Homo sapiens: one gene and its partners. The main gene of each other region encodes a partner of the protein of the gene in region 4 in a complex. Each region holds a gene or a part of one and is shown on either strand. Other genes may lie near its edges. The genes, in order: CWC15, SRRM2, SF3B2 and ARMC7.

What was found.
Region 1: ARMC7 (region 4) and CWC15 share a complex: the UniProt entries of both Homo sapiens proteins name them as parts of the minor spliceosome.
Region 2: ARMC7 (region 4) and SRRM2 share a complex: the UniProt entries of both Homo sapiens proteins name them as parts of the minor spliceosome.
Region 3: ARMC7 (region 4) and SF3B2 share a complex: the UniProt entries of both Homo sapiens proteins name them as parts of the minor spliceosome.

The regions. Positions count from the first base shown.
Region 1 is NC_000011.10:94,970,150-94,978,202, forward strand, and holds the start of CWC15 (spliceosome-associated protein CWC15 homolog), read right to left. Parts: upstream 3,408-8,053; 5' UTR 3,349-3,407; exon of another isoform or gene 3,124-3,348; intron 2,045-3,123; 5' UTR 2,037-2,044; coding exon 1,906-2,036; intron 1,339-1,905; coding exon 1,226-1,338; intron 917-1,225; coding exon 828-916; intron 1-827. UniProt on the Homo sapiens protein: Involved in pre-mRNA splicing as component of the spliceosome. Component of the PRP19-CDC5L complex that forms an integral part of the spliceosome and is required for activating pre-mRNA splicing.
Region 2 is NC_000016.10:2,762,367-2,769,773, reverse strand, and holds part of SRRM2 (serine/arginine repetitive matrix protein 2), read right to left. Parts: coding exon 1,513-7,407; intron 778-1,512; coding exon 490-777; intron 1-489. UniProt on the Homo sapiens protein: Required for pre-mRNA splicing as component of the spliceosome. As a component of the minor spliceosome, involved in the splicing of U12-type introns in pre-mRNAs.
Region 3 is NC_000011.10:66,048,149-66,055,411, reverse strand, and holds the start of SF3B2 (splicing factor 3B subunit 2), read right to left. Parts: upstream 3,049-7,263; 5' UTR 3,028-3,048; coding exon 2,895-3,027; intron 2,740-2,894; coding exon 2,693-2,739; intron 2,386-2,692; coding exon 2,308-2,385; intron 2,269-2,307; exon of another isoform or gene 2,184-2,268; intron 337-2,183; coding exon 97-336; intron 1-96. UniProt on the Homo sapiens protein: Component of the 17S U2 SnRNP complex of the spliceosome, a large ribonucleoprotein complex that removes introns from transcribed pre-mRNAs.
Region 4 is NC_000017.11:75,112,753-75,120,159, forward strand, and holds part of ARMC7 (armadillo repeat-containing protein 7), read left to right. Parts: intron 1-1,416; coding exon of another isoform or gene 1,417-1,430; exon of another isoform or gene 1,431-1,976; coding exon of another isoform or gene 1,977-2,047; exon of another isoform or gene 2,048-2,068; intron 2,069-7,407. UniProt on the Homo sapiens protein: As a component of the minor spliceosome, involved in the splicing of U12-type introns in pre-mRNAs.

The DNA of each region.
Region 1 (8,053 bases), on a different chromosome or scaffold from region 4:
ACACAGTACATATGTACAACGTATCACCCTAAGAAAGTCAAAACAATTTTATGTAGCTCAAAACAACTTTAAGCTAGCAGCAAAGATACTCAAAAGTGCAAAAAAGTGTGCTAAATTCTCAGAAGAAAATAATTTCAAATGAATAATCATTAAATTTCAGTTGAAATTAGGTTTCCTGTTTTAACTATTATGAGTAACTCCATCAATTAACTCTAGAATTAACTGCTGATATGTATACATAGTTAGATATTACTCATTGGATGCCACTCAGGTTTTTCACTGTCCTGTATGTAGAAAACTGCAAATTGATTATAGGCTCTAGGGTCCCACAGAATTTTAACATTAACTGATGTGCTAATCCTTAAAAACCTTCTGCTTAGATTACTTCCCTCCCTAAGCACAGAGGGAACCATTAAGTGTATTGCACTTATAGAAGGGGACATATCTAATATGGAAAGGCCTCCAGGTACAACTCTAGAGGGCACTGTTTATAGGAAGCCCAGTATGAAGAGTGCCCTGGAGAGGTGTGTAACACAGCAGTAGTGCAGTAGTTTAGTACAGGACATTATTTTGGGGGAAAGCATATCCTTTTATAGATTCCTTCCATATTTGGTTCTCTAGAGATCAAACTTGTTCTTAAAGTCCCACAAAATAATACTTTTGATTTTAAAATCAACTATAAAGTTTAGCACTGAGGTCAGGGCTATATTTGAATAACAGTAACTAAACATAAATATATGTCACTTCTTAAAGCAAAGACATAACAAGTATTTTAGAATAGCATGGTAAATCAATTATTAGAGATGAAAGGAGGAAACAAAACATACATCTGTTAGAGGGTCATCTGCATCAAGGTTGGCGGCAGGAATCTGGTCTAACCGTGGCTTTTTTGACACTGAAGAGGAGGTTGTATGTTCTGGGGGGAAACAAAAATCATTTAACTTAGTAAAACAAATACTTCATTTCTTAAAATGTTTTAGGGACCTGTGAGCACAAGGAGCCCACATTAAAAGCATTATCCACAGTGAACTCACATCCACAGTGCCTGGGCAAATAAGCCTTTGGTAAATATTTGTTGTTATTATCTCTAATGACCTAAGAAAGTAGTACAGCTCACATCAATCTGTAAAAGTAAACAAATGGTTAACATTTTCCAATTGCTACATAAAGAAAAACTATCAACAACATAATTTTATGAGACAAATGTCTTGGATAGTGTTGGTACCTCGGGTTGGACGATCCCTATTTTTCTCTCTTGCAGCAGCTCTCTCTCTTTCTTCCAACTCTCTCCTGAAGTCACGGTTACGAACCTCTTCAGGGGCATCCTGAGTAGTCTGTCTAAAGTAGAAACAAACCAGGGCAAAAATGTTACTTAAACACACACACACACACACACAGAGACTGTAGTAATGGAAGACAATTCAGGAATGAGACTTTGTCCTTCAAGCAGAAAAAAGGGAAGTAGACAAGATCATAATTTAATCTGAAGGTTACTAACAGCCACTCTTGTGATGTTCCCAATATTTCAAGAAGTCCAAATTCAATCACATATTTTCCTATAATAAGGCTTTACAGTGATTAAAATGTCTTTAATTTTTATTAGGATTATATCAACTCAGAACTTAACAGTAATACTTTTAATATACTGACTGGTGCTCATAGTGCATACTCTGAGGCATTATTATTTCTATTATTTATTGTTCTATCTACATATGAAAATTCCTGGTTAGTAGGAATTTCACATTTTAAAATCACAGCAGAATTTTAGTGTTAAACATCCTATTGCATTCTATTCCTATGAAAATAGATAAGTGACATAACTCAAACATACTACTATATCATGACCATGCCATTTAACAGATCTGGTCTTGTTTTGTGAACAATAAAAAAAGAAAGTCTTACTACCTGTATTTTATCTTTGTATGAGAGGGTAGGTCTCTGCTTGAATACTGCTTTGAAAGTTGGCTCAAATCACCTTCTCCTTTTCCCCTTCCACCTCTGGCAGGTTCAAAGGTTGGCCTGGCTGCTGTTGTCATCTTTTATGCTTTGAAGAAAAATATAATCAAGTTATTTCCAACATTACAAACACTCATTTTATAGAGTATTAATCAATATCCATACTGGTAAAATAAGTTCTAAAACTCATTCCCCAAAACCTGCTTAATCTTCTTAAACAAAAGTTTTCAAGAAAACAAATTATGAGGCTTAGGCTGTACAAGGAATATGGCTTCTCAGGCTTGCCTTAGTACAAAAAATTCTGTCATGAAGATCTGAGTTTGCATCCCTATTCTCCTTCTGACTATATGGGCTTGAGCAAGTCACCTGGCTTAACTTTGTCATCTGTGGAATGGAGATATTCCTCATAGATTATAAGAATTATGACACTTGACATGTCAAAACCCTAGTAAAATACAGTACTGCCATGACTGAGTTTTAAAAATTTCCAACTCAACCTTACTCTACCAGACTCTGTAAGGTTTGCATTTTATCTAAACTTCACACAATAGCAAATAGGCTAGTAGAAACAAAAGCTAAAAACAAACAAAAAATATCACTGACAAAGTTACTAAATGTCCCAGAGAAAAGTGTGTTAAACTTCAATGACAGTTACACAGAAAAAAATTCTTAAACAACCGTTTGTTGAGCCAATTTTCTCCTACAACAGGCATCATACTATAAATTAGATCGTTTGTGGGTTATAATTTAAGGCCTGTTCAAAAAAAACAGGAACCTCACCCCCAGAGGATTCTGATGCCAAAAATCAGGGACTCATTCCTCAAGTTACTTTCTGCTTGGAGCAGTCACAAGAATACTGTGCAGCAGATGCAGTCACTAAAACCCTGTTAGTGTCGGAAAAGCAAGTGTGTGGGGAGGGTGGGCGAATTGGGAGGATTTTTTGGGGGGGGGGCGATGCTAATTCTCTCAACTTTCAAAAAGGGTAGAGACATGTATACAAAGAAGAAAACAGGGTTATCTGGCGCTGGGGGCGCCGCCCCTTCCCACACACCCACGGAATTATCACTCCGGCCTCCCGTGAGCTAGTCTTTGGCTATAACCAGAAACTCGCTGCCTCTTCACCCGTGCCCAGCACTGCAGGGGTGCGAAGGGTAGTGAAGGGAGGACCTGGGGTTCGCTTTACGCAGTAGGCGAGCTGCCTGTACGCTGCGATCTCCTCGGCGGGCCCAAGAGCTCCAGACGCGCCTGACAGGCACTCGGTTCCGCCCCTAGCCCGCTGCTCCAGGGCCTCCACCGCCCGCGCTCTGCACTCTGCCGCCGACTCCGACCCCAACTGCCCTTTCCCGTCCCATCGCGATAAGAAAGATAATCTCCTATCCTCTTGCCGCTCACACTGGCCGAGGTCCGATGCAGCAGGCTCCGAAGATCATACAGACGCCATTACCACTCTTGGCTCCCAGAAACCTCTGCGCCCAGAGCTAGCGCCTACGACCCGGAAGCAAAATCCAAGCGCTTCGGGGGCGGAAGCAACGACCAATCCGCAGTGGCCGAAGTGGAAGTCGGCGTAACGGCACTAAGGGGCGGGGCCGAAGCGGCCCAGGGGGCGGGCGTTTGAAATCAGTGCCTTAGAGTAGACCCTAAACCTCATTTTATACCTTCAAGAACCAATTACTTAATGTCTCTTCCGTCTTTTCCGTCCCCGACCCCCTCCCAGACTCCTTCATTCCGGTACTGCGTGGACGGAAAGCCCCGGGTAGCCGACACCACGTCCCCGGCTAGCGGGAGAGAGCGTGGAAAAGGATTACACCAAACTGTTTAAATCCAACGACTCCTGCTTCCATCCTTTCTCCTGAGCTAGAACCAACAAACCTAGAGAGTTGGGCTTCGGAAAAACTAGTGTTTTCATTTAATTGGATATGAAGAAAGAACAAATATGTACGGGGCAACCACGATCTTTACAAAGGTACCATTCCTGCAAAAATATTAACACTTCAAAGCAAAGGTTGTATTCGTAATGTTTGCTAAAATTTCTTATTTAAAAAACGTTAGTTTTAGTGGGAGGGGAGATGTCAGTATTTACGAGAGCGTTTACAATGGTGGGCCCAACTACCAGGAGCACAAGATGTAATTATTAAGATGGCTACTTAAGTGTTAAGTTTTAATAAGACAACGAAAAGTAGAAAACCCGAAAACCAAAAACCTACCAGTCGTCTCTCCTCCCTTCCATAAAAACAAATTCTGAGAATAGAGATCTTGGTTGTTTAGCTCATCTTGGTATCTCATCACATAGACCTTGACGTATAGTAGCTGCTCAATTAATATTTGTTAAACAAATGAAAATTCAACTTCCCCAACTTAGTTTAAAATGTAAGGAACTCACAAAATTGAATATTTAAATGCTTTCTTACCCCTAAATTCTTTGCAACTTTTTAATGAAGAAAGAAAAGCAGAAAAAGCCCTTTCAGTCATAGAGTTCAAGATGAAAATCCTGATTTTTCTTACCGAAGGTATCCCTCCTCCAGTCTTAACAAGTCTCACTAAAAGACGCGATCATCATGCTAGTTACTCAAACCAAAATCCCGGAGTGCCTACTTAAATTCCTTTTCATTCACTCTTCACATACGGTTCATTTACAGGTCTTAACAATTCTACTTTTAAAACTCACCCGCAATTTTATTCTACTGCCACTACCCTTGCCTTTGCCAACACCATCTCCTACCTGGATTGTAATTGCTTCCTATTATATCTTCCTGCGTCATCTTTTATCCTACAGTCAGTGTTGCATATAGCCAAGAGAGTGATCTTTTAAAATTAATAAAATGGTGTTACTATCCTGTGTACAATTTCACTGCACTTAGAATAAAAATCACATTTCTTAATGTGACCTGAGACCCCACGGAGTCTGGTTCCTGCCTACCTTCCAGACTTCACTTCCAATCAGTCACTCGCTTACGCACTAAGCTCTAGACACAGCCAAGTGGGCATTTCTGTTTTATAAAACAGGGCAAGATTCCTTCTATTTTAGGGCCTTTGCACTAGCTTTTCTCTGTTGCCTGTGCCCCAAAGTAACTGTATCACCATCCTTCATGTCTCAGGTATCACAGTGAGGTTTTCCTACCCCCACCCCTCCAACACTTGTGTTTGTACACCATCACATCACCCTGTTTCATTTTTCATACCACTAAACATTACCAGAGTCTATTCTATTCATTTTTTATTTCCATGTCTCTCAGGAGACAGCATGCGAAGGTCATTAAGAGAAAAGGATCTTCAGCCTGCCCATTTTTGTTCTAAATTCCAGTTCTGCCCTTTCCTAGCTCTATAACCTTAGGCAAGTCATTTTCCCTTTCTGTGCTTTCAGTTTCCTCACGTGTAAAATGGGCGTAATTCTAGTCCCTAACTTGTAATACTACTCTAAGGATTAAGTGAATTAATACTTGTAAAGTGCTTAGAACTGTCTCAGCAAATAGTACTTGCTAAATAAATGTTAGCTATTATTATTATTATTAATATTATTTTTATTATTATTGTCTATCTTCCTATATTAGAACATAAGTTCCAGGAAAGCAGGAACCTTGTCTCTCTTGTTCACTGGGTGTATCCTCTGCATATAGAACAGTGCCTGGCACATAATAGGTGCTGAGTAAGTATTTGTTGAATGAATGAATGAATGAATGATGCACTATGAAGTAGAGGAATGACGTAACAATGGCAAGATGGTAACACAATTATAGGAGATACCCACAGTTTTTATGTTCCAACTGTCCTCATTAGCCTGGAGTGAATCACTTCATTGATTTAACTCCCAGCCCACTAACCTAATCTTTTGGTTGCCAGTGGTGATAAATAGCCACCCTATAATTTCATTAACACCAATATACAATATAGTCAATCCACAAAATTAAAAGCTTTTGACTTAAATGAAAGTGCTAATAAGAAAATGAAACTAAAGCTTTTGACTTAAATGGTTTGAAAGTATTAAGAAAAAGAAACTTAAGTTTACTAAAATCTTGAAATTCATCTGATCAGTTAACCTAGCTGGCAAAAATCATATAACCTCCCAAGAATTCTTATGTTAAACCTGTTACCACAAAATCTAGTTTGGCCCTTAATTCTGCCTGCCAGTCCTCTTATGCTCTCCTAATTGTTTATTTTCCCCCTCTACAATAATATAATTTCCCACATTCCCCTTTCTTCAAGTCTACATGCCTCTTTCACCTCCTTTTCCCTCTGCATTCTCTTTCCTGGCAGTAGATCTTCTCAGTTCTCTGAGAAAACAGAAGCTCTTAAACAAGGACTTCTCATCTCCTTTTTTCCGCAGATCTATCGAGCTGCCTTTGGCTATTCCTGTATCCTCAGATTCTCATTATTACTGGAGATGAGGTGACCCACACTCTCCCTTGTGCTCTGGGTCCTAATTCCTCCAGGTTTCTTAGTGGCTGGCATTTTGCTATATATTTTCTCTTTCTTATGATCTATGAGGCCATCCCTTTCAGATCATTTTTATCAGCTTTTGGACATGGTATAGTATATCTTAACCTTAAAAAAGGCTCTTTCATTTTAGTATGCCAAAGGTAGCATTTAATTAAATGTGAAAGGGATGTAGTTTGGCCCTTGATTGCAAAACTTTCTATTTTTATGGCAGGAGTAGCATAGGAATTCCAGTTTAAAGCTTAAACAAAATCAACACCTAAAAGGGAAAATAGAAACCATAAAAACCTAAGAAGAAAATTTAAGAAACTATTTATAGAACCTAGAATTTGGAAAGACCTTTCAATCAAAGCAGAACACCTTAAGAGCTTTAAAAGAAATACTTTTAAAAATTCATTTATCCAACAATTAATTTTATAGCTGTAGATGCCAAAAACAAGTCAATAAATTCTAGATTCGCAAATAAATTTTGTAATGCCTATAACATATAAAGGATTACTGCTACTGCTAGTGATACACATAATATAAAAATCACAAATTACCCAATTAAAAAATGGACAAAAGATATAAGCAGGCCATTCAGAAAAAGCAATTTCAAATAGACAAGTCAATAAACATGAAAGACACTCAACCTTCTAATGAGGAAAATGAAAGTAAACTAAAAATGGATTATCACATTACAGCATCCGATTGGCAACAATTAAAAAAATTAATAACATAGTTGGATGGGATTGAGAGAAAAGGGGATCCAGTCAGACAGCGGGGGGCATTGGTCCCCCATTACCCTCACAGTAAAAGCCAAGGTGTTCACAATGGTTTCCAAAGTTTTCTATGGTCTACCCTTTCCCCTACCTCTTTGACCTCATCACTTGCTCATGCTTTTCATGGCTACCTCCTTCATATTGTTGCTTGGACACGCACACAGCTGCTCCTGCTTTAGGGCCCTCACACTAGCTATTTTCTCTGCCAAGGCTATTCTTTCCTGTCTTACTCAAGTCTTTGTTCAAATGGAGTCCAACGAACCTTGGGCATCTCTACTTAAAATTGCAACTGTTCTCCCTCTCTGTCCCCTAACATTCTGTACTCCGTATCTCCCTTCCCCTCTTTCTTCTTTTTATCTTTTAAAATTATATTATATATAATTACATGGCATTTATCATCTTCCATGACCCTATATAATTTAGTTATGTTACATTTATTGTCTCTTTCTCTACTTCTCCCATGTAGAATATAAGTTCTAAAAGGGCAGAGATCTTTGTTTTGCTCAGTAATATAGGTCAAGCATTAAAACAATGCCTGGCACCAATAGCTACCCAATAAACAGTTTCCATATGAGTGAATAAAAGAAAGAATGAATGGACGAATGAAAGAATGAATTAGTTTTAAGAGGAAAAAATTGTGTTCTGTTGTAAAAAGTTATTGCCTTAATCTATTTTATATTTTAAAGGAAAAAAGTAACTTACATTGTATTAGTCTGAAATCCCGATTTCAAATGAAGATATGATAAGACCCAGAAATATGACTTTCTTTCGGGAGAGAATCTCTAAATGAAAAAAATCATATGAGATCAGGCTTTATATGTACCATCAAAATCCTAATTAAATCAGCCCTAATCCAATCACAACTCTAATCCAACTCTCTCCATCTCTTCCAGTTGAATCACTGT
Region 2 (7,407 bases), on a different chromosome or scaffold from region 4:
GCAGAGGTGGGGCTTTGTCCTGCAGGCCACAGGGCGTCCCGAAGGATTTGTGGAGTGGAGGGAAGTAGCCAGATGTGCGTTTTAGAAAGGTCCCTCTGGCTACATGTGGAAGAGAATGGCGTGGAGACGGGGAGACAGGGAGGAGGCTGTGGACAGAGTCGGGAGAAGATGATGGTGGCCAGACCAGAGCCCTGGCAGTAGCAACAGGGAGACAAAGCTAGAACCCTGGGAACAGGCTATGTGTTGAGGGAGGGAGAGGAAGAAACCAAGGACCCCCTGGTCCTGGCCTGAGCGCCGCTGTGGATGGCGCAGCCCTTCGCCAGAACAGGGTGCAACGAGCATGGGGAGAGGAGAGCAAGTGCCTCCTCCCCCACAACCAGATGCCCAAGGCCACGTGAGACACCCAGCGGGGAGCTCACACCCCAGGGCCCCTTCTCTGGACAAGTCACTCCCCCACCCACCTTTCAACTCAGGCAAGACAGCACTCACCTCCGCTCGCCAGGGGGTGGCTTCTTGGGGCTTGCAGGTTTGGGCAAGGCCTGAGGGCCAGGCTTAGCAGGGGAAGGGGAGGAAGACGACGAGGAGGAGGAAGATGAGGAGGAAGAAGAAGAAGAGGAAGAGGAGGAGGAAGAAGAGGAGGAGGAGGAGGAGGAGGAAGATGAAGAGGAGGAGCTGGAACTGGAACTGCTAGAGCGCCTCTTCCGTTTGGCTGGGGTTGGCTCCGGAGGACGTCCCTCTCGAACAGCCTCCTTTGGGGCTGGGGTGGGGCTGGGGACCCTGTGGGAGGAGAGGAGTGTCACAAGGAGACAAGCTGCCCCAGCCCCAACCCTACCTTCCTTGGCCTGGAGGAACGGCAGTGGGGGGAGGGGTGCCTGAGAAAGGCGCTGGGAGCTCTCCGAGCCACGTGAGCCAGCAATTCTCTGGAGAGCAGTGGTGCGAGCTGACCCAACCTCTGCTAACAGAAGCAACAGGCTGGGGCCCGCAGCATAAGGGATCAAGGTTAAACCTCAAGAATGTCCCTGATGGAGGAATAAGGCCTCTGGGCTCAGGTGTGGAAGCTGAAGCTGGGTAGTCTCCTTCCTCGGAGAGCCGCAGCTTGGGGAGGCCCCTGTGAGTGCAGGTTGGCTGGGGAAGGGGCCGTCCTGCCTGGAGGCAGGGAGAGGGATGGGATGACCTCTGAAGATCCTTCCAGCCCAGGGAGTTCCTCTTGAGGTCTAACTGCCATCCCTCCTGCTGTAAAATTAAGTCCATTTCCTCTAGTTCTGTCCTCTGTAGAGACGGAAAACTTATCATTATCCTCTAGAGAATGAACCTTCGGAGACTTTTATCTGTCCCATTCCTCCTCCCTCCGCCCCCTGCCCCAGCATTCTCTTCTACCCCCAGCTTGAGGGTCAAGGTCCCCATACCTCCTCCAAGAGCCAAGCACCTGTGACATGGTTTCTCCCTCCCCACTCCCCAACCCATCCCCAATACCTCCCCCACTGAAGATTTCTAAAAGTCAAGCTCCCTCACCTCTTCAGTGCCACCTCAGGTTGCACAGGAAGGCTAGAGCCCTCTGAGTCACTAGAACTGGAGCCAGAGGAGGAGGAGGACGACGACGACGATGATGAAGAAGAGGAGGAGCTAGAGGACGACGACGACGAGGAGGAACTCCGCCGCTCCTTTGCTGGCTGCAGGGCGGCTAATGCAGAAGGCTGCTGGGCCCCAGTAGAGGCAGGTGGCTCCCCCACATCAGAGTGGGGCACCCCAGGGGCAGGGACAGAGAGCATGCCATTGTGATCACCAGCAGAGGACGTGGTCGTTGCCACTGCCCCAGAGGAAAGGGACTGAGACCCTGCTACAGGGGTGGTCTGGGCAATCAAACAACGGGATTGGTCTGAAAAAGCAGAAGGCACAGGAGACCTCGGCTGATCCTGTGCTGGAGGGAGAAGAGACTGTGAAGGAGCCTGGCCCATTCTAGAGGAAGGGGAGGGAGCCCGTTCAGAGGTCATCCTAGATTGGCTTGGGGCAGACGGTGGTGTTCTGGACCTAGCTCGGTCAAGGAGCGGTGGTGAGGTTCTGCCACTGACACGCTCGTAGGCAGAAAGGGGCACCCTGGGGCTGGTGAGGTTTGCACCAGACAATGCTGGAGCCATCCTAGCACTGGTGAGGCTCGCGGGGGCCAAGGCTGCGGCGGTTCTGGAGCCGGCAATATTCACAGGAGCTGTGGCATGTGCAGACCGAGGACCCACCAGGTTTGCAGAGGCTGGAGCCTGTGGTGTTCTGGAGCTGGAGGGATAGTTTGCAGCAGTTGGTGGTGTGCCAGAGCCTGTGAGACTCAGAGCTGCCAAGGCAGCTGGGGTTCTGGCCCCTGCTAGGTTCACAGCTGGGGCTGTGGGAGTGCGAGGGTCAGCCAGGTTCACAGCCGAAGGTGCCACCGCTGTTCTGGGGCTGGCCAAGTTCATGGCCGCTGCTGCAGCTGGCGTTCGAGAGTCAGCCAGGTTCACTGCTGTTGGAATGGCAGGTGTCCTGGCGCTGGCTAGGTTCATGGCTGCCGCAGAGGCTGCAGGAATCCTGCTGGCAAGGTTGGCTGCTGGTGCGGTTCTGAGACTCATGAGAGGCACCGGGGCTGGAACCTGGGACATTCTTGCAGCAAGGCCAGCAGCAGACATGGACGGAGGAGGCCGAGCGGTGCCAAGACTGATAGCTGTCAGGGCAAGTGCAATCCTGGACTGAGCATGATTTTCTGGCACAGATGTTCTCTGGTGGTCAGGTATTCGGGGACCTGGACCATCCATCATGGAGCCGCCGGCTTGCTGCAGGACAGACATGGGTGTTCTAGAGCTGCCAAGGGGTTCAAGCATTCCAGGTGATCTGCAGCGATCAAGAGGTGTTGGGGACATGCTAGGACGACTGAAGCAGCTCATTCTGGAACTGTTGAGTGCTACTGGAGGTGTCCGTGAACCAGAATGATTTCTTGTTGCTGGAGGAGTAGCAGATCGTGAACGATCAGAACTACTTCCAGATGCAGAACGCCTGCGGATGGCTGGAGGAGATCTTGTTAAGGACCGTTTACCCCGAGCTGTTCGTGGAGTACGGGATCTGGAGCGGCGGCGGATAGCAAGTGGTGAGCGACTTCGAGAACGTTTGCGTGGTAACAGTGGCGTTCGAGATCTAGAGCGGCGCCGAATAGCTGGAGGTGTCCGGGACCTAGAGCGGCGGCGTGTCACTGGTGAGGTTCGAGAGCGGGACCTTCTTCGAGTTACTGGAGATGTGCGAGATCGAGATCTCCTTCGGGTGACCGGAGATGTTCTGGATCTTGATCTTCTGCGAGTGATAGGCGAAGTTCTGCTTCGAGATCGCCTCCTGGTTACTGGTGGAGTCCTGGATCTGGACCTTCTGCGAGTCACTGGTGGAGTTCTAGAACGGGAGCGGCGGCGTGTTGTTGGCGTTCTAGACCTTGAACGACGGCGGGTTACTGGTGGCGTTCTGGATCTGGATCGCCTTCTGCTCACTGGGGATGCTCTTGACCGGGATCTTCGTCGAGTCACTGAAGTCCTGGACCTTGACCGTCTCCGGCTGACTGGTGAAGTTCGAGATCTGGACCTACGTCGGCTTATCAGGGGGGTTCTGGACCTGGATCGCCGGTGAGTGGCTGGAGAGGCTCGAGATCTAGAGCGTTTCCACGGGGCTGGTGATGTGCGTGAGCGAGAACGCTTCCGACTGGTTGGGGGTGTCCGAGAGCGGCCTCTTCGGCGTCGAGAGGAGGTCCGGGAACTTTCCTGCCGGGCAGGTGACCTTGAGTGATAACCAGAGCCTCCCCTCCGCCGCCGAGTAACCCGCGACCTTGACCGGCTCCGCTGTCTTCGCCGAGAGGTTGACTGAGAAGATCCAGACCTATCTCGACGTCGGGTTGTTCTTGTTTTCTCTCTCCTTGAGCGGGAACGGGACCTCTGGAGTCCACGAGGCTTTGGCGAAGGAGAGCGGCCTCTCCTTGAGGTTGTCTTAGTGCGTGGAGATGAAGCTGAGCGCCGTCGGCGTGAAGACCTCGATTTTTCGGCTGGCTCCGGGGAAGACACTGAGGGACTTCTCCGGTGCCTTGGGGGAGTTCTAGAGCGAGTTTCTGGTGAGGATGAGGCAGAGCGGCTTCTACGGGACAGTCTGGCCTTCCTTGTTAGCTCCGGAGATGATCGAGAGCTGCGACGTCGAGGTGGTGTACGAGACTTGGTCTTGGGCTCTGGTGATGACCTGGAACCTCTGCGAGCAGTTCTGGATTTGGGCGGATGTTCAGGAGAGGACTCGGTACTGCTGCTTCCTTCAGGAGAAGGGCCTCTGCCTTTGCTTGATGAACCTGATCTGCTTCGTCTGGGAAGGGCCCGAGGGGCTGGAGCTTTAGGTTCAGGAGAGGAATCAGAACCACTCTGTGCCCTGGGTGCTGCTCTTGGCTTATCTTTCACTTCAGGGGAGGAACCAGACCTACTGCGCCGAGGGGATAGTCGAGATTTGCTGTCAACCTCTGGAGATGATCCAGACCGACTCCTCTGCCGAAGTGGGGTTCTTGTCTTGGCTTTAGAATCTGGAGAAGAGTCTGACTCACTTCTTTCCTGAGGGGATGCACTGGGTTTCACATCAAGTTCTTGAGAGGATCCCGAACGACTTCTCTGCCCCAGGGGAGTCCGAGCCACAGTTTTCTGATCAACTGATGATTCTGACCCGCTTCTTTCTCTCTGGGGGGTAAGACACTTGTTGTTGAGCTCTGGGGATGATGGAGAACGACTCCTCGGCCTAGGAGTCTGAGGCAAAGCTTTCGGTTCTGGGGAAGAATCACATTCGCTTCTCCCTCTAGATGGCGTTCTAGGTATATCTTTCATTCCAGGAGAGGACCCAGACAGGCTGTGCCTCGAGGGAGTCCCAGACCCATCTCTAAGTCCTGGAGAAGACCCAGACCTGCTTCTCCTTGATGGAGTTCTGGGTAAACCATCTTTCATTTCAGGAGAAGATGCAGAACTACTTCTTTCTCTCGAGGGTGTTCTGGGTACAGCATCAAGCACAGGTGAAGAGATGCTCTGATTTGAAGACATCCCTGCCTTTTCCACTGCATCTGGGGATAACTCAGAACTGCTGTGTCCAGAGGATCTTGTCGATTGTTCTTTCATGTCTAGAGATGGATCTGTTTCCAGCTGATTAAGAAACGGTCCATTCAAATCTTCTTTAACCTCAGAAGAAAATCCAGTATTCATTTCTGTACCAAGTGGGCCTGAGTTTCTAAATTCTAAAGGTGATCCAAAGCTGTTCTCCCTGAGTGGGGAGTTAGACAGTTCTTTATGTTCTGGAGAAAAATGTGGCCCACCCCAAGATGAGGCCATTGAAGGGACTTCTACTGCTTCCAAAGAAGCCTGTGACTGGCTCTGATCAAGAGTCAAAGACACAGCAGGCCTTTCTTCTACTTCAGGAGATGATTCAAAGTTACTTGTGGACATTTCTTTAAGTTCTGAAGACAAATGAGACAGGATTTGGCCTGCGGGTTCTTCAGACTTCTCTACCACCTCCATTAACTCTTCATCTTGGCTTGACGTAGGCAATGCACTATTTTGCTCTTTTGTTTCTGGAGATGACCCAGCACCACTTCTTTCCCTTGGCGGGGTTCTAAGTGTGTCTTTGAATACCAGTGAAGACTCAGGCCTATCCTGTACTGGAAAGGGACTAAATTTGTCTTTCTGTCTAGGAGGTGATGCAGTAGCATCCTCCTGAGGGGGTAAGGCCATTTTCTCTTTTGATTCAGCAGTCTCCAATCTACTCTGCCCCAAGAGAGAATTCGAGTCCACTGTAGGATATGAAGAAGAGTCAGACTGGAACCTGCTCTGCTCAGGAGACATTCCAGATTTCAACATAGGACTCGCTGAGAACTCACCTCTATCTTGTCTTATTGGAGATCTGGATGCCAGCTCAGTGACTGGAGATGAAGACCTGGACCGACCTCCCTTAGGTGATGTTTGAGATTTGCTCTGCAGAGATGGTGATTCTGAATGACTCTGTCTCACTTCTGGACTTGAAGTATCAGATCTGTGGTCTGGTGAAGTTTGAGATTGTCCTTTCAGTTGCAGAGATGAGACACCAAAATAGCTCTCGCCTGGTGGTGTGCTAGATTTTACTCCTGCACAGAGAGAGAGGGATCCAGGGCAACTTTGAACTAGTGAGTCTTTAGACTTCTCTTGGGGACATGGTGACTTTGATCCAGAAAGACTTGGCCCCGGTGGAGTTTGGGCCTTTACTTTGGGGTATGGTGAAATAGACCCTGAGTGACTTTGTCTTGGCGGTGTTTCAGGTTTCACTTTGGTATCTGGTGAGGAGGACCCAGAATGACTGTATCTTGGCAACAATCTGGATTCCACATTGGAGCAGGGAGATACTGATCTGCTTCGCCGTGGAGTTGTTCTCGACGTCACCCTACTAGGACTTGGAGAAGAGGAGCCAGAATGGCTTCTTTGTCTTGGTGATATTATTGCCTTCACTTTGGGTTGTGGAGATGATGACCTAGATGGGCTCTGTCTGGGAGGTGTGCTAGATTTCACTCTAGGAGGAGAGGACCCTGAGCAGCTATGTCTAGAAGGGGTCCTAGATTTCAACTCAGGGTCAGGTGATGATTCAAAACAGCTCCGTCTCTGTGGCGTTACAGATTGCTCATTGGCCTGGGGACTTGTTATGGACCCTTGCCTCGGTGGTGTTCCAGATTTCACTTTAGGATGAGGAGATGAACTGGAATGACTTTGTCTTGATGGTGTCTTAGATTTCTGTTTAGGTGGCGGAGAAGAACTGGAGCGACTGCGTCTGGGTGGCGTTCTAGATTTAGCTTTAGGTTGGGAGGATCCAGAGCGACTGCGCCTGGGTGGTGTCTGTGACTTTTGTTTAGGGCATGGGGAAGACCCTGAAAGGCTGCGCCTCAAAGACAAGCGAGATTTTGCTTTGGACCGTGGTGAAGAGAGAGACCTGCTCCGCCTTGAAGAAATGCGAGATTTCTTCATTTCTGGGCTTGAATTGGACCTGCTTCTTCTTTGAGATGTTCTGGATTTGTTTTTCCGCTCTGAAGATGAGCCAGATCTGCCTCTTCTTTGAGGTGTTCTAGAGTGAGATCTTCCACGTCTAACTAAGCTTCTACTGCGGGATCTTCCTCGTCTTGGTGTCCTAGACCGAGACCTCCCTCTCCTGGCTGGTGTTCTGGAGCGTGAGCGACCACTGCGTCTAGCTGGGGTTCTAGAGCGTGAGCGGCCACGTCTGGCTGGGGTTCTGGAGCGTGAGCGGCCACGTCTAGCTGGGGTTCTAGAGCGTGACCTGCCACTTCTCCTGGCTGGTGATCTACTACGAGACCTGCGTCGTACTGGTGATCGGGTCCTAGATCTGCGCCTAGCAGGTGTTCTAGACCGAGACCTG
Region 3 (7,263 bases), on a different chromosome or scaffold from region 4:
CCAGAAGCCTTAGTTCTAGGACCCAGCTTTCTCTAAGGCTCCACTGCCCCTTCAGGGACCTAATGAGTCCAAGGCCAGGGCTGCCACCTGCCCTACCTGCTTGGCACGCTCCTCCTGCTGCATCAGCAATGCCGCCTGCTGCTGAGCCAACTTCAGCCGCTCCTCCTCTGACAGTGCCACTGGCTCACCCACACGGAGAGGAGGCGGGGGCCCCAAATTTGGTGGGTGGGCCATAGGAAAGCCAAGGCCAAGGCCTGGTGGAGGTGGTGGGGGTGGCGGAGGAGGCTGCAGAGGGGGGAGTCCCAAAGGTGGTGGTGGCATGGGAATTCCAGGGAGCTGTGGAGAAAATATGATCATAAAACTAGGAAGCATTTATCTACTCATTCTGCAAATATCTGGGGGATCTACTTTGAGTCAGGAGCTGGAATTCTAAGTCAAATGATACATAGTTACCACTCCATAAGAGAGAATGCTCCACAGCTCTATAAAGATATGAGAATGTTAACTTCTGGCACCAACCAAAGGAAGCTATCCACTCTCTCCAAAAAGATATCCTGAATATAGATTCTGCATACAATTCTAGGAGACTCAAAGACGCCTCTGAGGCCATCTAGGGACTCCTCATCCTACACACAGAGATCAGTAGATGCCAGGTCAGAGCCACTGCTTTAGAGAAAATGAGGCAAATCCTGGATCAGAAGGAACATGGAAATTGAGAGGACTTACATAAACAGGAACCACTGTATCTGGGCAATGCAAACCCCAATGACTACTAAACGCAAGGGGTGTGAAATCAAATCAGGGAGCCCTCGATGTCACACAAAAGAACATGGGAACTGTGCCTGGGGCAGGCAAAGAAAAGGGTGATTGCTTCCAGCTGGGTAAGGACAAGTCAGTCTTCCTTGTATTCAAGCTGTATTTTTTTTTTTTTTTTGAGACAAGAGTCTCGCTCTGTCACCCAGGCTGGAGTGCAATGGCGCAATCTCAGCTCACTGCAACCTCCGCTTTCCAGGTTCAAGCAATTCTCGTGCCTCAGCCTCCCAAGTAGCTGGGATTACAGGCACCTGCCACCATGCCCGGCTAATTTTTATATTTTTAGTAGAGACAAGGTTTCACCATGTTGGCCAGGTTGGTCTTGAACTCGTGACCTCAAGTGATCGCCCACCTCAGCCTCCCAAAGTGCTGGGATTACAGGCATGAGCCACCATGCCCTGCCTCTTTTTTTTTTTTTTGAGACAGTCTCGCTCTATTGCCCAGGCTGGAGTGCAGGGGCTTGATCTTGGCTCACTGCACCGTCCACCTCCAGGGTTCAAGTGATTCTCCTGCCTCAGCCTCCCAAGTAGCTGGGATTACAGACATGTGCTACCACGCCCAGCTAATTTTTGTATTTTTAGTAGAGAGAGTTTCGCCATGTTGGCCAGGCTAGTTTCAAACTCCTGACCGCAGGCGATCCACCTGCCTTGGCCTCTCAAAGTGCTGGGATTACAGACATGAGCCACCACGCCCTGCCTCTTTTTTTTTTTTCCTATTTTTTGGTTTAATTTTATTTTATTGTAAGTTTTCGGGTACATGTGCAGTATGCGCAGGTTTGTTACATAGGTAAATGTGTGCTATGGTGGTTTGCTGCACCTATCAACCCACTGCCTAAGTATTAAGCCTGGCATGCATTAGCTATTTTTTCTGACACTCTCCCAGCCCCTCCCCCATCACCTCCCCCCTTTTTTTTTTAAAGAAGCAAAGTCTCATTCTGTCACCCAGGATGGAGTACATGGAGTACAGTGGCGCAACCAGAGCTCACTGCAGCCTCCAACCCCAGGGCTCCAGCAATCCTTGAGCCTCTTTATAGGGACTTTATAGGCGCGTGCCACCGTGCCCAGCTAATTTTTAAAATTTTTTGTAGTAACAGAGTCTCACTATGTTGCCCAGGCTGGTCTCGAACTCCTGGCTTCAAGCGATCGTCCCATCTAAGCATCCCGAAGTGGTGGGATTACAGGCATGCGCCACTGCACCCGGCCACAAGCTGCTTTTGGAGAAGCAGACAGTGGAAAAGGAGGCAAGTGTCAGCATCAAAGAGAGAACTGAAGAGCTCACAATTCTGTCATGGCAGTACCTCCCTGCCCAACAACTGCAAGTGAGAGGAAGGGCTACCCTGAACATATGGAATCTTTTTTTTTCCCCACTCAGGTCAGGCGAGTAATGTGCAAGGGTGTCACATCTCACACATGCACGTGAACACCCAATCATCATGCTCATGAACTACAAAAGGATCAGCAGATGGAATCTTAAAAAACAGAAGAATCTCCCTACCTGTGCCGACATGGGAGGTGGAGCGGCTTTGTCCCCATCTTCCCCTCTCAAAACCGGCCGATTCAGCACGATGCCAGTCTGCAAAAGAGAAAGGACTCTAGGTCAGTCCAAAACTAGCTGTTTCACTAAACGACGTTCGCTCCCAATTCATTCAACAAAACGTACCCAGTGCCTGTCTGCCAGCGCTCTGGCTGGGCACTGAAGAGGACCAAGATGGATACAAGAAATTACAACTAAGCTGGCAAAGGCAAGAACAAGCTAAAAAGGGCAAGCCTCCGCCTTGCTGTGCCGAGATAAAGAAAGAATGAAGACCGAGCCGTGATGGGGTATATAAGGTCTCCTGGAGAAGCTCGGCCTATCCTGACGTCCCGCCGCCAACACCTACCTGGCGGGTGTAGCTCTGCAGCCGCTCCACCAGCTCCTCGCGATTACCTGCAGGGCAAAGTACACGATCAATGGGGCAGGCCAGCCCGGCCAGGTCAGGCCCCAGCGGCCTGCCTCCGCCCCTCGCACCCGAGTCTCCCGGGTAACCAGGCTCCGCTTCTCCGCAGGCCCGTAAAGGCCCCTCGACTTCCTGTGTTCCTCACCCTGGATCGGAGCTCCGATCTCTGCCAACTTGGCCTGAAGCTCCTGGGCAGCCCAGGCGCCATAGTGGCCTGGAGGTGGCGGCGGCGGCAGCTGCAATTCTGCTTTGGGAGGCTCGGGATGCTCCGTCGCCATCTTAGCCGCAGGAAGGCGCGCGACCAACCCGGAAGCTGGGGCCAGCCTCAGGGCCCACTTGCCGGAACTTCCGGTGGCGCCGTATGCCACGTCCTCTCTGGTTGGGAGGCGACGCGCACTCAGGCACACCCGCTGCCGTGCGCTGGGCGACGGGATTCGCCGCAGACGCACCTTTCTCTAGTGGCCCCTCGGCGGTCTGGTCGCGAGGCCTCCTGGGAGTTGTAGTGCGCAGGTCTCGGTCTCTGCGGGCCCTGCGCGCCGCTACGGCCCCGAAGGCCGGCGGCGGGCCGGAGGGCGGGGCTGCGAGGAGGGCTGGCACTTCCCCGAGGGAGTGTTTTCTGCGCCTCACCTGCGGGAGCGAAGGCTCTCAAGCTTTCCGGCCCGGCCCTCCGGTCAGATCCTCGAACGCTTACGCTCCCAGGGAGTCCCGAGAGACTCATTTCCCCGGCGGCCCCGCGTTGCGGGCGCCAAGCGGGAGGCTGGAGCCGATGCCTGGGATAAAACAGTGTCTGATTGTCTGCCCGCCCACCCCCGGCCCAGGCCCGGATGAATGGGCTGAAAGGGGATCCAAGCCGGGAGAGCAGCAGGCCTGCCCGGGCTGAGCTCCAGCTGCCGACCTGGGGGAAGGGCGACTCTAAAGCCCCCTTTTCCACCTTCCAGGCCGGCTCAAATGTCGTCTTCTCCACTAAGCCTCCTCCCGCTTTCCTTTCCTTTCTTAGAGCTCCCATAATACGTTCGAATCTCCACCGTTTGTTAAGTCTTTCTTGCCCTTTCTTCCTACCTCTATCCCAAAAATGTGAGCAGGGACTTGATCATTTTCAGTCTCGCATCGCCTGGCGTTCAAGAGGCGCCCAATAAATGATTACTGGAAAAAAAGGAACAATGTTTCTGGTGAAAGCATTTGTGTCTTTTTTAGTCTCAAAAATAAACTCAGGCCCTTTTCCCTCAGCCGCACCTGCACTGGGGGCCCCACCTTGCCTCCCACTCCCCACCCCAACTCCCCTTGGCCTTTGGAGACAGAGGCAGAGACTGGCAGGGATTCTTGCCTGCCTAGCATCCACCTCTCCCTGTCCCACACCATCAATTCAGTTTCTCTCCCCACCTCTGCCACTAGCTCTGCCCTCTCACCAACAGCTAGCCTGTGTGTGTTTTTTATGTGTGTTGAGAAAGGGAGTGGGGAGACTCAAGTGAAATGGTCTCATTTTCCCCCTACACATCCCCTTCAGATCTTTTCTCCAGCTCCATTTTGCCAACTGCCCCCAGTGGAGAAGAAGCTGGGAACAGGGAAAAAAAAAGAATGGGGCACCAGGTCGGGGGAAGGTGAGGTTTGGGAGAGACAGGGAAAAGGACTGGGTTGAGAAAGGTTGGCTCACATCCTAGCACTGGGTGGGAAGTCCTCTTCCTCCTACCCAAACCTTGACCTTTCCCCTTTCCATCAATATCACTATGGGAGGCTCCTGCAGCCACACTCCCAGAGGAGAAGCCAAACCCGGAAAGGACAGTAACGAAGACAGAAAAACAGCGCCCTTCCCTCCAGCTTGTCAGCCCACTCAGGCAGAACCTTTCTAGCCCAAAGGAAGGCTCTTCTGCTCCCTGTAACTGGAGAGCCCAGGGCAGGTCATCTGAGGCTGAGGGCCCCAAGGCATGTGTAGGTGCTAGGGAAGGGGGCGGGGTCTCTGAGGCAGGATAAACTAAAGGCTGATGGAGTCTCATTTTATTTATTTATTTTTTATTTATTTATTTATTTTTTTTTTTTTTTGAGACAGAGTCTCAGTTGCCCAGGCTGGAGTGCAGTGGCTCTATCTGCGCTCACTGCAAGCTCCGCCTCCTGGGTTCACGCCATTCTCCTGCCTCAGCCTCCCGAGTAGCTGCGACTACAGGCGCCCGCCACCACGCCCAGCTAATTTATTTGTATTTTTTTTAGTAGAGACGGGGTTTCACCGCGTTAGCCAGGATGGTCTCGATCTCCTGACCTCGTGATCCGCCCGCCTCAGCCTCCCAAAGTGCTGGGATTACAGGCGTGAGCCACTGCACCCGGCCTGGAGTCTCATTTTATAACAGCCCTGGGAAGGAGGCAAGGTCTCAAGATCCTCCTCCCCCACGATATTGTACACAGCGGAAGATTGATGGGCAGAGAAGGTGACATGCCCAAGAGGCCAAACTGGGGCCACCAGCAGTCCTTCTGACTCTGAGAGTCCCTATTTCCTCCTCCTCAACCATAACAAGGACCCTCACACTATTTCCTATGTGGGCCTAGAAGGGCGTATCCAGCCCCTTCCAGTCCCACCTTTGGGTGGCTACCCAGCTCCAGGATCCTTGCTTTACCAGGCCCAGAGCAAAATAGAAAGCAGGTGTGCAGGCCAGCCACAGAACTCAGTGTAGGGCTCTTGATGTCTGGCATGGCTTTGGGAGGTGCTGCTGCCCAGCTCCCAGGTGATGGGAGCTGAGGACTAAGAAGTTCACATGGAGCCTTCGTGTGTATTATCTCTGCTACCTCAGAACAGCTTCCCATTTTACAGCTGGAAGCAATAGGGCTTAGGGAGTTGCCTCTTGACTCTGGGATTTAAGAGCAAACCAGGATTGAACTTGGGTTCTTTGATGCCTGGTGGCAGGTGCCTAGGCAGGGGTCCCAGCCTCACTATAGCTCTGGTCAGGAGTGAGTGGGTCTGGAGTCCTAGTGAGGAAAAATGGGTGAGCAGCCAGAAGCTACATCAGAGGGTATGGGGGACACGCTGGAAGGGAAGGGGGCATGTGGGCAGAGATGGGACCAGACAAGGCTGGAGCACTGCTTCTCTACTGGAGGAGGACAGAGGATGTGAGTACCTGCACGTGTACCAGCATCTGGCTCACCCAGAAGCCCACGTATGACCGGCGGTGCCCCAGAATACCCAGCAATGCAGGAGTATCCAGACACCTTCCCGGCCTCAGTTTCCCTGCCTGAGTGAGAGAAGGGAGCTGGCCACATTAGTGTCCAACTCTGCAAGGTTGCCAGAGTAAGACAACTGCATCTGAAGATGCCACCCAGAGACTGTTCACGGCAGCCAGCGGGCAAGCCAGGGAACCACCCCCCCTCCCCCGTCCCCCTTCCTTTCCCCTCTCTCCCCTCTCCCCTACTTGCTCGTGGCCTGGCCCCGCCCCTCGCCTTCCTCCGGTGTGCGATGGGGGGCGGGGGGCGGGGGGCGGGCAGAGCCGGGAGGAGCGAGCCTAGCGGACGCTGCCACCTGATCCCATCCAGGCGCTGAGAGGCAAGCCACCGGCACTCGGCGCGCAGGGCCCCGGGCACCCTCGGACCCCGTGCGGATTTCGAGACAAGGGTCCAGAGATAGCGGCGGCCGCCCCCAACCCGGGCCAGAGGCAGAGCCCAGGCGTGCGGTGTGAGTACTGCAGTGGCCGGCATGGGGTTGGAGGGGTGGGAGTGGACCAGACCGGGATGGGGGCCGAGAGGCGGGCGGGAGAGTGTCTTGGGGGCCTAGTGGTTGGAAAGCATGAGGAGGGGGGCGCTCTACCCCTGGAAAGTGGGAGAAGATAGGGTGAGCGGGCCAATCTGGCCTATCCCCTATGGTGATCAGATCCCACTGGCAGGATCCCTGGGGGATGCTGGGATGAAATTGAGGGAGTGGGAGGTATGGTGCGGGTGGGCAGTAATGGAGACAGGAGGATGGAGGGAATTCCAAGGCAGGGATGATGCGGGGGTGGATGAGAGAGAGAGGAGGCTGGGGGGCCAGGGGCAGACCTGGTGCAGGCTGGGGGGTGGGGGAGGAGGAAAAAGAGGGAGGTGGAAAGATTTGCTCTCCCAGGCCAGTACTTTGCAGACCCCCTCAGCCCTTCGCCCCTCCTCTGGAGCACCCTGGGTCAGCGTCCCTCAACACTGGGCTGTCCCATCCCTCAAGTCAGGACAGGATGGAGTCTCCGGGCCATCCAGCAGTCAGGTCCAAGTGGTCCAGTCCAGGGCACCCCTTCCTCTAAGTGCATCGGTTTCAGCTCTAGAGCTCAGAGGAGACAGAGGAGAAAGGGCTCCTTTAGGAGGGTGGGCACCCCGGCCCATTTTCAAAGCTTTGGTCGGCTCTACTATTTCTTTGGTTCCCTGGAGAAAAGCTAGCAATTTGCAAAACTGGGCAGCAGCGTGAGGTAGATTGTTCTGACTAAAATTAGCACTGACATTCTGATGAGCCTGGGCGTCCTGACCTGCCTGGGATAGCTGGGAGAACTCTCTCTATGGAGAAGACACCAGGCACA
Region 4 (7,407 bases):
TTTTAATTTTTTGTTGTGACAGGATCTCACTGTGTTGCCCAGACTGGTCTCGAACTCCTGGCCCCAAGAAATAAATCCCTTGTAACCCTAAACAGACCCTCATTTCATAACACTGATTCTCGAAGGCCCCAACCAGGAATGCAAATGTTCCCCCTTCCGGTTTGTCTCATTGCCTCTTTGTGGTTTCTTTATCCCCTTTATTTCCTATAATCCAGAAATTGGGTTGAATGTCTTGATAGGATCAAATAACACATTTTTTATTTTATTTTATTTTATTTTATTTTATTTTTTGAGATGGAGTCTTGCTCTGTCGCCCAGGCTGGAATGCGGTGGTGCAATCTCAGCTCACTGCAACCTCTGCCTCCTGGGTTCAGACAGTTCTCCTGCTTCAGCCTCCCGGGTATGGGATTATAGGCGCCCGCCACCACGCCCGGCTAATTTTTGTGTTTTTAGTAGAGACGGGGTTTCACCGTGTTGGCCAGGCTGGTCTCAAACTCCTGACCTCAGGTGATCCGCCCGCCTCAGCCTCCCAAAGTGCTGGGGTTACAGTCGTGAGCCACCACACCTGGCCCAACTAACACATTTTTAAAAATACTTTTTATTTATTTATTTTTTTTTTTGAGATGGAGTCTTGCTCTGTCGCCCAGGCTGGAGTGCAGTGGCGCGATCTCGGCTCACTGCAAGCTCCGCCTCCCGGGTTCACGCCATTCTCCTGCCTCAGCCTCCCAAGTAGCTGGGATTACAGGCGCCCCCCCACCAGGCCCGGCTAATTTTTTGTACTTTTAGTAGAGACGGGGTTTCACCGTGTTAGCCAGGATGGGCTCAATCTCCTGACCTCGTGATCTGCCCGCCTCGGCCTCCCAAAGTGCTGGGATTACAGGCGTGAGCCACCGCGCCCGGCAAAAATACATTATGATAAGTGTGATTCAAATTTTTCAAAGACCATCCAGGTCTCCTCTAAAGAGGAGAGGAGATTCCTGGGGCCAGACTACAAATGAGGGTCTTCTCTCCATGAGGGGGCTCCAGCACATGTGTGTGCGGATTCACACCCCCACAGACAGCTGCCCCTTGGCCACTCCCTGGGTTTGGAAGTGCACACACCAACAGTGGCATTCACTCCTGGGAGTCAGGATCCAAGAGAGAGGCCCATGCAGCCGTGGGAGCAGGTTTAGGGCCTGGAGCTCCAGGTGCAGGGGAAGGACGGCTGTGGGCTTTGGGTGAGCTCCCTGGACTTACTGCCCCACAGAGGACCAGAGTGGGGCCTGCTAAAGCCAAGCCAGGGCAGGAGCCCCAGTTGCCCAGGTCCCCGAGTGATGCCAGCTCCTCTAGAAGATTATTATGCCAAACAAATATTCTAAAAAGTTGGTCTCTAAAACGTCCTCCGTCCCGTCCCTTTTCGTGCCTCTGCCCCCACAGCTGCTGCAGTCTGAACGGTGACGGTGGCCCCTGCAGAAGCATGTGGCTAAATCTCCACCAGGGGGCGATAGAGCTCCTCCAAATCAAGCTGCTGCCCCTGGAGAAAAATTGGCGGAAGTCACAGAGCAGTCCCCACCAAAAGTGTTTACCAAGTGGAGTCTTTCCTGCTGGCGTTTCCTCAGGGTCAGGAAGCAACTTTCCCAGGACAGGGGCACCCTGAGGTCCGGGTCCACTGAGCTATGGGGGCGGCGTGGGCCTGGGCTGGGTTCTTGCCATCCTGGGCAGCTTCCCGGCGTGGGTGACTGAGCCCGGGTCCTGGAGTCCGCGGTCCCAGCGTCTCCACTTCTCAGCTGATTCCTAGAAGCTGAGTCCCGTCCCTTCTCCGAGCGTGGTTTCCTCTCCCGCCTTGCCTGCGTCGCAAGCAGTTGTGGGAGCAGAAGTGTGTCTGTGCATCTGTGTCTCTGTGCAGGTATTTTAGAATTGTTAGGATCATTATCACCAGCTTTACTTTTCCCAACCATTTTTTTCCTCCTTTTTTTCTCTTCCTTCTTCTGCCACAGCAAGACCCCCCCGCCCCAAGCACAGTAGCTTTCTCAGCGTCGAATCCCTCCGTGGGACCATGTTGCAATGAAATTTCAACATGCAAATGAAATTTCTCGAAATTTCTCTTGTGTTTATTATGCATGACTGAGAAGGAGAGCCCCCGCGTATTTTCTTACTGCCGTCGTTTCCCTTTCTCTTAGTGTCTCTGCTTGGGGATCCCCGACAGGCACTTATTCTGCTGTTTCTGGAGAAGGCTCTGTGCTGCGCTTTGGAGCTTTGAGTCTTTTATCCGATGTGGCAGCCCTGAGATTGTGATCTCCCTGAGCCAGAGCCAGCCTTACTTCTGTCTGCATGGTTTGAGTGCTTAGGCCTTTTGGCCTAGGGAGGAGGAAAGAAGGGGAAGAAAAGGCAGGAGATCTTCACTTAATAGGTGTGGAGTCCTGGCCATGACTTGGTGCAACACCCCTGAGCAGGGTTGGTTCTGGAAGGACTGGCACAGTGGAGAGCTGAGTCAGATTGCCCATGGCTGTGGCTCGCAGAACCAAAACCAAGCTGGGTATGGTGGCTCACACCTGTAATCCCATTTGGGAGGCCGAGGGGGGTGGATCACTTGAGGTCAGGAGTTCGAGACCAGCCTGGCCAACATGGCAAAACCCCGTCTCTACTAAAAATACAAAAATTAGTTGGGTGTGGTGGCGCACACCTGTAGTCCCAGCTACTCGGAGGCTGAGGCAGAAGAGTTGCTTGAACCAGGAGACAGAGGTTGCAGTGAGCCAAGATCACGCCACTGCACTCCAGCCTGGGTGACAGAGCAAGACTCTGTCTCCATAAAAAAAAAAAGGAACCAAAACCATTGTCTGCTTGGTTGAGCAGGGTGGTTCATACCTGTAATCCCAGCATTCTGGGAGGCTGAAGCAAGAGGATTGCTTGAGCCCCCAGGAGGTCAAGAGCAGCCTGGGCAACATAGCAAAACCCTGTCCCTACAAAAACAAACAAAACAAGTATCTGCTTGTTGGCAGGCAGCACAGTGAGTTGGATGAGAGCTGGGCCCTGGGGTCAGGCAGGCATCTGGGTGTGGGCTCTCTCTCCTCCAATCATCTGTCAGATGGGGACAGTGCCAGTAGCTGCTTCACATCAGTTGAGAGAATTAAATGAAACACCACAGTGCTCTTTTAGGGTTAGTGTCTGCAGCCATAGATAGGATTCCCTTGGTTGCCATCCAAAGACAAATACCCAAAACCCTTTGAGGGTGAGCTGTCGCCCCTTGTCCCAGAGAGGTGAGGTGCGGGATGGGATAACGTCCTATCAAGGGAATCACTCATCTGCTCCAGGAATTCTTACCTTCTGGAAAAACATCACGGAATGACAGGAACACCGATCCTCAGCCTCCCAGAGGGTGCCCAGGCAATGTCAGGTGGGGAGAGCCTGGCTGCAGGCCCGGTGCTGTTGTGCCCCCATCACGGATGGCATTAGCTCACACTTGGGGAGCACCCACTGCATGCCAGGCGCTTGCATCTTGTGCATTGGACATAGTACTAAAGTAGATGTGCTTACACCGCCTTCTTTCCAATCAGGACTCTGAGGCTTAGAGAGGTTCTGTGGGCTGGCCAAAGGTTTAAAGAGTACCAGACCTAGGCCGGGCATGGTGGCTGACGCTTGTAATCCCAGCACTTTGGGAGGCCGAAGTGGGCAGATCACCGGAGGTCGGGAGTTCGAGACCAGCCTGACCAACATGGAGAAACCCCATCTCTACTAAAAATACAATTAGCTGGGTGCGGTGGCACGCGCCTGTAATCCCAGCTACTCAGGAGGCTGAGGCAGGAGAATCGCTTGAACCGAGGAGGTGGAGGTTGAGGTGAGCCAAGATCACGCCATTGCACTCCAGCCTGGGCAACAAGAGTGAAACTCCGTCTCAAAATAAATAAAGAGTACCAGACCTGAGACTTAAACCCAGAGCAGTCAGAGTCTACAAGCTAGTCCCTTGGCCCTTTTCCTGCCCTTAGAGGAGTTCCAATTCCTAGGATTGTGGAGCGAAAGCGAGAAAGGAGTTTACTCCAAATTGCTCATTTTATCAATAAGGAAGCTGCGGTGCAGACAGCTGCCCCTCGTCTGGCTGTCGCAGGCCAGGATGAGAATGCAGGCTTCCTTCCGTCTGTCCCTGCAGCCACCACACTCACAGGTACCCTTCCATGCTGGCTTTGCTGTGGCAGCTCTGAGTGAGGTCTGCTCTTTGGCCCAGCACTTCTGCCTCCTCTCTGAGGGCTGGAAGCTGGATGCTATCCAAACAAATGGATTCGCTCACCCTGCACACTAAGGCCAATTACTGACAAAAATCGCAGTGAGAAAGTGAGGCTTTGTTTTTGTTTTTGGTTTTGGTTTTTTTGAGACAGATTCTCACTCCGTTGCCCAGGTTGGAGTGCAATGGTGCAATCTCGTCTCACTGCAACCTCCGCCTACCTGGTTCAAGCAATTCTCCTGCCTCAGCCTCCTGAGTAGCTGGGATTACAAGCACCCGCCACCACACCCAGCTAATTTTTGTATGTTTAGTAGAGACGGGGTTTCGACATGTTGGCCAGGCTGATCTCGAACTCCTCACCTCAGGTGATCCGCCCGCCTCGGCCTCCCAAAGTGCTGGGATTACAGGCGTGAGCCACTGTGCCCAGCCAAAAGTGAGGCCTTTATTGTGGGGCGACAAGCAAGAAGAATCCGGCAGCTCATGCTTAAGACCCAAATTCCCAGATGGCTTATGGTTAAGGGTGTTCAAAGGCAGGAGGCAGAGGTTACAGACAAAGTTTTAAATCAACACCAGGAGGCTATATATTGGTTTGGCCTAAGAAGGCAGGATGTCTCCAAGGGATGGGGCACAGATCATAGGTGGCTTCAAAGATTTTCTGATTTGTGAGTGGTTAAGGAGGTGAAGCTTTGTCTACAAATTTGGCATCAGCAAAAAAGAATGTTAGCTATAACCTGTGGGCATGTCCTCCAGGCCCCTCAGGGAGTCTAAAGAGTGGTCAGAGTGTAGTTTTCAGTTCCCCTTATCTGAGGTCTCAGTGCCAGGGGAATTGTTTGTTGAGGGTCCAGATTTCTGAAAAGCAACTCAAGGACAGATATTAAGATGTTATCTTTAGGCCGGGTGTGGTGGCTCACACCTGTAATCCCAGCACTTTGGGAGGCTGAGGCGGGTGGATCACTTGAGCTCAGGAGTTCAAGACCAGCCTGGCCAACATGGTGAAACCCCGTCTCTACTAAAAATACAAAATCTAGCTGGGTGTGGTGGCAGGAGCCTGTAATCCCAGCTACTCTGGAAGCTGAGGCAGGAGAATCGCTTGAACCCAGGAGGCAGGCAGAGGTTACAGTGAGCCAAGATCGTGCCACTGCACTCCAGCATGGGCGACAAAGCAAGACTGTCTCAAAAAAAAAAAAAAAACAAAGTTATCTTTAGTTTCTATGGGGAAACCAGACATCCCCTGATTCTGACTTCCTTGGCTATTGTTTTAAGCTAACTATTACCTTCTTGCTTATCGAGTTGCTCACTTGCTTCTCAGGGCTAGCTAGGTGCCTGGAATTTCATGAAGGGACTCAAGATTTTCCTTTATTTCCATGCTTGGGGGCCTGCAGGCCCCTAGAGAAGCCCCTGCTCTCTCTCCATGTCAGCCAGGGCTTCAGTCTGGCCTCAAGTGTTCCCATCAGCGGTGGCAGTGGAACTACAGTGGCAGCAACCACTTGCCAACAGGGGCCTGGCCTCACTCACCGTCGTCTCTGTGTGGCGGTCTCTTTCTCCTGTGGCTTCCTCTCAGTTGCCCGCCGTCGGCACCGCCACAGCCATGAGGAAGGATCCGGCTACAGCGACCGCGGAGAACACGCACGGGTTTTCAAGTCTCTGGCCTCTTTTGTGGCCTCTTGTGGATCTGCCCATTTAGAGCAATTGTAGAACTAGTTTATTGACCCTTTCTGTGCTTCTGGCTGCCTTTTCTGCCCAGGGTCCAGGGCTCCTGTTTGGGTGCTGTTGGGATAAAAGCTGCCTCTCCTGGATGCCCGCCCAGTGCACACCATGTGCTCGCCACACGCCCACCTGAACCAGCCTGTCCACAAGGCCTCTGAATCGGTCATGAACGGCAAGGCCGATGGTTCTAACCCCTTTGTACATATCGGGAACCCCCACCACCAAGTGAGGGCAAGTCCACTGCCTGGGGCTCCCGCTGTTAGTGATAACTGGAGCCAGGACTTCGCCCCTGTCATCCAGGATCCAAATTCTGTGCCCTGGGAACCCAGCTGGCACCAGGCTCAGACTCTAGTCCCTTGTTCTGGCCTCAAACTCCTGGGCTCAAGTGATCCTCCGACCCCAGCCTCCCAAAGTGCTAGGATTACAGGCATGAGCCACTGCACCCAGCCCCAGTGGCAGTTCCTCTATGACACTGGTACACTGGACTGTACACTGGTACACTGGTACACTGGACTGGTACACTGGACTATTCACAGGGGATTATTTGTTCTTGGGTTTTCCTTCAGTGTCTTGAAAATGGCTCCTTCAATTTCAAGTCTGAAGGACAGACAGTACATAGAGTAAGCTACCCTTTGTGTGAGAAGGCAGGGTGGAGATGAACACACCTCTGTGTATGCACTCACGCTGGCAAGACACAAAAGTGTAATAAGGAAATGGGTTAGTACGAGGCAGGGAACAAGGTAGAAGGGACCAGAATGGTGGTGAGACTTCTGAAAATACCCTGTGATACAGTTTTTTCTTTTTTTTTTTTTGAGACGGAGTTTCGCTCTGTCGCCCAGGCTGGAGTGCAGTGGCGCGATCTCGACTCACTGCAAGCTCCGCCTCCCGGGTTCACGCCATTCTCCTGCCTCAGCCTTCCCAGCAGCTGGGACTACAGGCACCCGCTACCACGCCCAGCTAATTTTTTTTGTATTTTTTTTTTTTTTTAGTAGAGACAGGGTTTCACCGTGTTAGCCAGGATGGTCTCGATTTCCTGACCTTGTGATCCGCCTGCCTCGGCCCTCTCAAAGTGCTAGGATTACAGGCGTGAGCCACCACGCCCAGCCTGCTGTGAAGACTTTGACCCTGGGCTGCTTCAGCTCAGCATGGGCGAGTCCCCAGATGTAGCTGTATTTTGAGCTGCCCTTGCCGAGGGCCTGCCCAGCCACCAGGTGCCAGGTGCCAGCTAAGCACTTGTCAGAAGCATCACCTCGTTTTGTTTTGTTTTTGAGATGGAGTCTCGCCCTGTTGACCAGGCTGGAGTGCAGTGGCATGATCTGGGCTCATTGCAACCTCCGCCTCCCAAGTTCAAGCCATTCTCCTGCCTCAGCCTCCCAAGTAGCTGGGACTACAGGTGAGTGCCACCATGCCCAGCTAATTTTTGTATTTTTAGTAGAGATGGAGTTTTGCCATGTTGGCCAGGGTGGTCTTGAACTCCTGACCTCAGGTGATCCACCCTCGGCCTC